3 separate regions of the Homo sapiens genome follow, and all the other regions are linked to region 1. The links come from fine-mapping of genetic effects on gene expression. A gene starts in region 1. Each other region holds a variant in brackets. All regions are shown on one strand. Distances are from middle to middle.

Region 1 (2,731 bases):
TTTTGCTATTTTATTTTGGCTTTTATATGATGTCAAAGATGGTTAACAGCATCTCCAGGCCCAGGTTCCACAGATTAGAAAATCCAGCGGGAAGAGAGCCTCTTTCTTGGTATCTCTGGAAAATGTAAAGGTTCCCCTGCCCTTGTTCCTTCCCATCTTTAAACTGATCACTGTGGTTAGGGGTGTATAGTTTTCTCATAAGCCAGGGCAGGGCCCCATGCCTGCCCTGGAGAGTAGGGTCGGTCCCACCATAATAACAGAGACTGTAAGGAGAAGAGAGGATCGTTTCTCAAGGGAAAATCAGGATGCTGTTACCAAACAAAGGAGAGAAAAGAGTCTGTTTCTATGACTACATCTTTCTGGGCTGTGTGGTCCAAACACACCTGTGACACCAGACATGTCCCCTACATTATTTTCCATTGAAAACGATGTTTATTTCCTTTTATACATGGTGAGAAATTGAGTTTCTTTGCATAGAGAATAGACTCCTTCAGAAATATTCATTCTGGAAGGTAATGTCAGGAAGGATCCTGGCAGGCAATGGAGAGATCACTCAAATTCAGGTATTCTGAGGAAAGTTTAGTAAAGAGATATTTACAAAGGATGGGCAGGGTACAAGGAAGCCACAAGGATGATGCGTGAACTGGGGATAAGAACATCTGGGCACCCTGAGGCCCCTGGCTCTGAGAGGGCAAGCAGAGGGGGTGGTTACCAAAGCTGGAGGCACAGAAGTCTGTCTGCAGACCCCCAGGCATAGCCAGCCTATGGCCAGGCATTAAAATGAGAACTAGGGAAAGAAACAAAAATCCATACCTGCTTCTCCTCCCTCCCTCCAACTTGCTGCAGGAATTCCCTATTGAATGAACCACCAGGAAGCCAGTGAGAAATCTCTTTGTTGTAGGTCCTAAGATCAGCCTCCCAGGGCACAACGGAAGAAGGACAAAAAGTGGGAGCAGAGAAACAAACAGGAAGTCAGTTTCTTATCTATTTTTACACTCTATTCATGGGCTCATTCAGGGAAATACCCATAAGATGTCTAAACACATGCCCTGGTCTGATTTCCAGTGGCATTGACTGCTAAACATGTATGTTAAAAATGGCCTGTGTAAACATCAAAATACATGAGACGGTGAACATATCTAACAGCAGTATCAGTGTGGTCCCTTGAGGCTTCCTCTTGATTTGGAGGCATGAGGTTTGTTTGAACTTTTGTTCTTTCATTTACAGGCTACGTGACCTTTAACAAATGAGATAACCTCTCAGAGACTGTGTCCTTGTCTTTAATAGGAGGATATTTCCCCTGCCCACCTAATGGTATCTGTTATTCAGTGCAAATGAAATATTGGATATAAAAGTATTTGAGAGTGATAAAGTACTAATGTTATATTGATCTTTTCAACCTTAAAATATGAGCATAAGAAATACAGATTAATATTTTTATGGGTATGATTTTTTGCAATGTTTATTTCAGAGTTCTACGTGGGGAAAAGAAAGAGAGATCAGACTGTTACTGTGTCTATGTAGAAAGAAGTAGACATAAGAGACTCCATTTTGTTCTGTACTAAGAGAAATTCTTCTGCCTTGAGATGCTGTTAATCTGTAACCCTAGCCCCAACCCTGTGTTTGCAGAGACATGTGCTGTGTTGACTCAAGGTTTAATGGATTTAGGGCTGTGCAGAATGTGCTTTGTTAAACAAGTGCTTGAAGGCAGTATGCTTGGTAAAAGTCATCGCCATTCTCTAATCTTGAGTACCCAGGGACACGATACACTGCGGAAGGCTGCAGGGACCTCTGCCCAGGAAAGCCAGGTATTGTCCAAGGTTTCTCCCCATGTGATAGCCTGAGATATGGCCTTGTGGGAAGGGAAAGACCTGACCGTCCCCCAGCCAGACACCCGTAAAGGGTCTGTGCTGAGGAGGATTAGTGAAAGAGGAAGGCCTCTTTGCAGTTGAGATAAGAGGAAGGCATCTGTCTCCTGCTTATCCCTGGGAATGAAATGTCTCAATGTCAAACCCGATTATACGTTCTATTTACTGAGATAGGAGGAAACCGCCTTATGGCTGGAGGTGAGATATGCTGGCGGCAATACTGCTCTTTAATGCACCGAGATGTTTGTGTACATGCACATCAAGGCACAGCACCTTTCCTTAAACTTATTTATGACACAGAGACCTTTGCTCACATGTTTTCCTGCTGACCCTCTCCCCACTGTTACCCTATTGTCCTGCCACATCCCCCTCTCCGAGATGGTAGAGATAGTGATCAATTAATACTGAGGAAACTCAAGAGACCAGGGCTGGCGCCCGTCCTCCGTATGCTGAGTGCCGGTCCCCTGGGCCCACTGTTCTTTCTCCATACTTTATCTCTGTGTCTTATTTCTTTTCTCAGTCTCTTGTCCCACCTGACGAAAAACACCCACAGGTGTGGAGGGGCTGGTCCCCTTCAGTTCTAAAGCCCACTTGGCTCATTCCACATGTGGCAGTATTTTTTTACCATGTGAACACCAAAATGAATTCGTGGCAAATGCACCTCCCGTTTATTGCAGGCTTGCATGAAGGAAATGATTTCCTATGATTCTGCTTACTGCTTAAAAAAATTAATCAAGTTTTCTGCCTGACAAGTAAGTAACTGTGTTTATTTTCTGTTCATGACTAGGCAAAAGCACATAACATCCCTATGTGTCCAGTGAGTTATGAAAGTTCTTTAAAAGCAGTGCATTAGCCATGGATCT
Region 2 (2,769 bases), 65 kb before region 1:
AATAGAACAAAAGGAGAAAGGGAACAGAGCAACAAGGGAATTCAGCATAATCTACTGTAATTCGGTTAGTTTAAATCTGAAGTGAGTCCAATAAGTTAAGATGTATATGGTAAGCCCCAGAATAATCACTAAAAAAAACTCACAAAAATATAGTGAATAATTAATATTGTTAACACAGCCATATTACCCAAAGCAATCTACAGATTTAATGCAATCTGTATCAAAATGCCAAGGACATTCTTCACATAAATAGAAAACACAACCATAAAATTTATATAGGAACACAAAAGACCACAAACAGTCAATGCAACCCTGAGCAAAAAGAACAAAGCTGAAGGCATCACACTACCTGACTTCAACATATACTAAAAGGCTATAGTAACGATTAATAAAACAGCATGGTTTTGTCTAAAAGCAGGCACACAGACCAATGGAACAGAATAGAAAGTCCAGAAATAAATTCATGCCCTATGACCAACTAATTTTCAACAAAGGTGCCAAGAACACGCTAGGAAAAAGGACAGTCTCTTCCATAAACAGCACTGGGAAAAATGGATAGCCCCATGCAGAAGAACGAAACTGGACTCCTGTCTCTCACAATATACACAGTCAACTCAAAATTGATTACATACTTAAATATAAAACCTGAAACTATAAAACTAGAAAAAAAACAAAGGGAAAGTGCTTTATGACAATGAGCTGGGCAAGAATTTTTTAAATAAGACCTCAAAAGCACAGACAACGCAAAAATAGACAAAGGGGATGACATCAGACTGAAAAGCTTTTGCACAGCAAAAGAAACAAAGTAAAACAGCCTACAAAATGGGAGGAAATATTTGCAAATTATACATGAGACAAGGGGTTAATATCTAGACTATGTAAAGAACTTAAACAACGACAACAAAATAGCCCAGTTTAAAATTGGGCAAAAGACTGTAATAGACATTTCTCAGAAGAAGACATACAAATGGCCAATGGGTACATGAAAAAATACTCAACATCACTAATCATCAGGGAAATGCAAATCAAAACCACAATGGGATATCACTTCCCTCTACTTAGAATGGCTATTACCAAAAAAACAAAAGAAAACAAGTGTTGGTGAGGATGTGGAAAAAAAGAAATACTTACTTCATGTTGTTAGGGTTGTAAATTGGTACAGCCACTATAAAAAACAGTGTGGAGATTCCTAAAAAATTAAAAATAGGCGGGGCACGTGGTGGCTCACGCCCATAATCCCAGCATTTTGGGAGGCTGAGGCGGGCAGATCACTTGAGGTCAGGAGTTTGAGACCAGCCTGGCCAACACGGTGAAACCCCGTCTCTACTAAAAATACAAAAATGAGCCAGGTGTGGTGGCAGACGCCTGTAATCCCAGCCACTTGGGAGGCTGAGGCAGAAGAATCACTTGAACCCAGGAGGCAGAGGTTGCAGTGAGCCAAGATTGCACCACTGTACTCCAGCCTGGAAGTGCAGAGTAAGATTCTGCCTCAAAAAAAAAAAAAAAAATTAAAAGTAGAACTACCATATGATCCAGTAATCCCACTACTGTGTATATATCCCCCCAAAATAAAATATATA[T/C]GTTAAAGAGGTATCTGCACTCCCATGTTTATTAAAACACTATTTACAATAGCCAAGATATGGAATCAACCTGAGTGTTCAACAATGAATGCATGAATAAAGAAAATGTGATATATATATACACAATGGAGTACTATTAGTCATAGAATGAAATCCTGATATTTGCAACAAATGGAGGAATATGGAGGATATGATGTTAAGTGAAATAAGCCAGACACAATAAGACAAATACCTCATGATCACACTTACATGTAGAATTAAAAAAAAAGAAGAGTTGATATCACAGATGCAGAAAGTAGAACAGTGGTTACCAGACACTGGGGTGGGGCTGGGAAGGGAAGGACAGGAAGAGGTCGGTCAACGGGTACAAAGTAACTATTGGACAGGAGGTGTAAGTTGATATCACAGATGCAGAGAGTAGAACAGTGGTTACCAGACACTAGGGTGGGGCTGGGAAGGGAAGGACAGGAAGAGGTCGGTCAACAGGTACAAAGTAACTATTGGACAGGAGGTGTAAGTTCTGGTGTTTTCTTGCACACTAGGGTGAAGACGGTTAACAGTAAGGTTTTGTGTATTACAAAACAGCTAGAAGAGAGGCTTTTGAATGCTTTCATCACAAAGGAATGATAAATTCATGAGGTGATGGGCATACCCTGATTTGACCATTATACCACATGTATGTATCAAAACATCAAATTGTACCCTGTGTCAATAAAAAATAAAAATATGACAAAGTTGAAATACTCACATTTCCTCACTTCAAAATTTATCAGACAGCTACAGTACCTAAGACAGTGTGGTGCTCACGTCAGGACAGATATATAAGTCAACAGAAAAAAATTGAGGTTCTAGAAATAAACCCTCAAATTTATTGCCAATTGATTTTCAACAAGGATGCCAAGACAATTCAATGAAAAAGGAATAGTCTTTTCAAAAAATAGTGCAGGGACAACTGGATATTAAAATGCAAGAGAATCAAGTTGGACACACATATAACCCCAGTTAAGAAAGAAAATGGACCAAAAACCTAAATTTAAGATTTAAAACTCTAAAACTCTTAAAGGAATACATAAATATAAATCTTCAGAACCTTGAATTAGGCAATAGCTTCTTAGATATGACACCAAAAGCACAAGAAACAAAAGAGAAAACAAAGTGGGCTTCATCACAATTTAAAACTTTTTTTAAT
Region 3 (2,769 bases), 69 kb after region 1:
AGACGTGACTTGGTCCTCCTTGCCTTCTACCATGATTATGAGGCCTCCCCAGCCACGTGGAACTGTGAGTCCATTAAACCTCTTTCTTTTGTAAATTTCCCAGTCTCAGGTATGTCTTTATCAGCAGCATGAAAACAGACTAACACAATTACATTTCCCAGCTATCCCCTTGCACTGAGATGAGCCATGTTACTAATCCTGACAAATGGGATGTGAGTTTAAATTACATGTGAAACCTCTGGGTTTCACAAGAGGAATCTGAACCCCTGCAAAGAAAGAGACCCCAAACAGTCCTGGATCATTATGTGACAGAGAGAATCACTTCTATCTTGTGTTTTAAAATACTGTTATGTTTAATCTCTGTCATGGCAGTAAAACCTATATTGGAACAAGTCCCTAAGGCTGCCTAGGTGAAAGGCGATGGTCTGAGGCAGGAACAGGGTGAATGAATTAATGGAGATAATAGATCTGAGAATAGTTGTTGGACTTATTGACAGGATGTAGGAAACAAGAGAGAAGAAGGTGTTAATTGCACCCTCCCGCCCCATATGCTTTCACTCCAAGACTGGGTAAATGGATGGTGAAGTCATCAATGAAAAAAGGAGGATGTGGGAGAAGTAAGATTACTTCCAAACATTTTAGAGGAGTTGGAAGTTTGCTGGGAAAAACCTGTTTTCAGTTCATTTGTTCATCAATTCAAAAGAATTTTACTGACCTCTTACTATGTGTAAGGAACAAAGGATTTTTTTACAAAAAAAAAAATGTTCATTAGCAATAGCGTAGGTTTTTATTACAAAAACAATAAAGATGGGAACCTCAGCTGTAAAAGTAGTAAAAATACAGAACTCTGTAGATTATGCACAGATTTGTCAGGCCCTTCATTGCTTGAGCTGTTTACAGATCATCTAACATCTCACTTAGTGTTGTCTCAGGTTTGCACAAGCAGCCAGCCTGGACAAGGGAAGTGTGTGAGGCACACTTTTAGCTTTAAGATTTTATAAAAG[T/C]CCACCTGTTTGGAGCTGAGGTTCATATAAGAAAGAGAAGGCCCCTACAGTGAGAAGAATTTCACATAGCCACTCATGTAGTTGTACTGTAATCCCAAATATCCTTAGGAGAGTCATTCCAAATAAACATATGTACATGTACATTCAGGGCAAAGAGTATGTGTATGTACATTCCATACACTTCAAAACACAGTCCTGTTTAAATCATCTCTGCACATTTTCATAGCAGACTTTCTTTTTGCCCATTTATCCTCCTACATAAGCAGTTTAAATAATCACCCTACATGATATTCTGAACTTCCTGAGTAGAATAGTTTGTCTCATATTGACTAAAAATTCAAAGTATGTCTATATATCAGGAAAGTCATTTAACATTCATGTTAACAGTCACAAATGTTAGGCCGCTTCAAACATATCCTACCATAGATTTCTTAAACATAAAATATATATGAAGGAAATCAAACTACTTCACTCTCAGTTTTTTAACAAATGGTCTGGGATCATGTTAACTCCTTTGATCTCTGCTTCCTGCAGGGTGGTCTGCTGCTGATCAAATGAAAGTATTCCCCAGCTAAGTCAGACAACAGGAAAGCATTCATTTAATTAACAGGCATTCAATGCAATTCAATGGGTTATTTCTTAAACACCTACTATGTGTCAAATCCTGTCCTGTGCCTAAGTGGATGCAAAGGTAAGTAAGATTTAACATGGCTCTGACGCAGGTTCATCGAAGAGCCCTAGGACCCTGAAGGGAAAGGTTAATTTCTTGTGATTGTGATGAAAGGAAAAAACACTTCCTAAAGATTCCTACGTAAGAGCTAAACTTAGAAAGAAAGAAGGGTGGGAGTGAGGTCTCAGAAGAAACAACTGACACCTTGATCTCAGACTTCTAACTTCCAGAACATTGAGAAAATATATTTCTAATGTTTAAACCATCCAGTCTGTGCTACTTTGTCATGGCAGCCTAGCAAACTAAGACAAGGCATAACTCTCCAACATTTGTAAAGGAGTGTCAAATACGTCACTGTTGATCTTCACATTAACCCTGCAAGGTATATATTATTATGCGCATTTAAGGAAACTGAGGCTCATCAGATAAGTAACTTGCCCAAAATCACACATCTACAAGTAGCAGAAAGATACATAGAGAACTGGGAGCATACTGCACATATTTTTATCTGCCATTTTTAACTCAGTTGTTTTATCATGGACATTTCCCATATCACTGAAAATCAAAGTATGTCAGTTTAGGTTTGCTTATCTCAACTTTGAATAAGCTGCCTAGGAAATCTATGTAACAGAGGAACATCTTGAAAACTAACATTGGAAAAAATAAAAATGAAACATAACTTGTTAAAACCAGCAAGGAATTTAGTGATCACCCAAGAAGGCCAAACACTATGACAGGTGACAACAAGGCTATGGCACATCCTGGGTCCTAGAAAGGCTGTCCTAGTTCATGTGAATATTCTGGGAAGGACTTTCTCATCCTCCTTGACCCCAAGAACTATGGAGGGCTGAACAGGCAGGTTGATCCCTCTCTAGCTCTGGGTCTCATAGAGCAAAGAGGATGATGCTATTAGGGTTCACCTCACAGTGTATTAAAGGAGGGAAAGACTTAAAATGGTTTACAGTGAGGTTTGGGAAACATTAGCAATGATTTCTGTGATTTAGAAGATAAAAATAAAAAATTCTATTCTTGCTTTTTATATATAGATTATCCAGTTTATTCTTGATAACCATTTTCAGAATGACATGGATCATC

Evidence for each region. PIP is the estimated chance that this variant, and not a neighbour inherited with it, causes the effect.
Region 2: its variant is fine-mapped to the expression of HISLA in whole blood (TOPMed, PIP 0.98).
Region 3: its variant is fine-mapped to the expression of HISLA in blood mononuclear cells (TOPMed, PIP 0.93).

The regions. Positions count from the first base shown.
Region 1 is chr14:88,022,862-88,025,592 of GRCh38, forward strand. HISLA (HIF1A stabilizing long noncoding RNA) reads left to right here and starts at 1,689. Exons shown (of 4, transcript NR_046094.1): 1 at 1,689-1,808; 2 at 2,546-2,620. LINC01147 (long intergenic non-protein coding RNA 1147) reads right to left here. Exons shown (of 3, transcript NR_110121.1): 2 at 814-915.
Region 2 is chr14:87,958,230-87,960,998 of GRCh38, forward strand. All of the region lies in intron 10 of GALC (galactosylceramidase), which reads right to left. Among named protein-coding and RNA genes, the nearest start is that of GALC, 34 kb to the right of the region's middle. The variant T/C (reference allele first, on the strand shown) is at 1,581.
Region 3 is chr14:88,091,589-88,094,357 of GRCh38, forward strand. No RefSeq gene overlaps it. Among named protein-coding and RNA genes, the nearest start is that of LINC01147, 67 kb to the left of the region's middle. The variant T/C (reference allele first, on the strand shown) is at 1,005.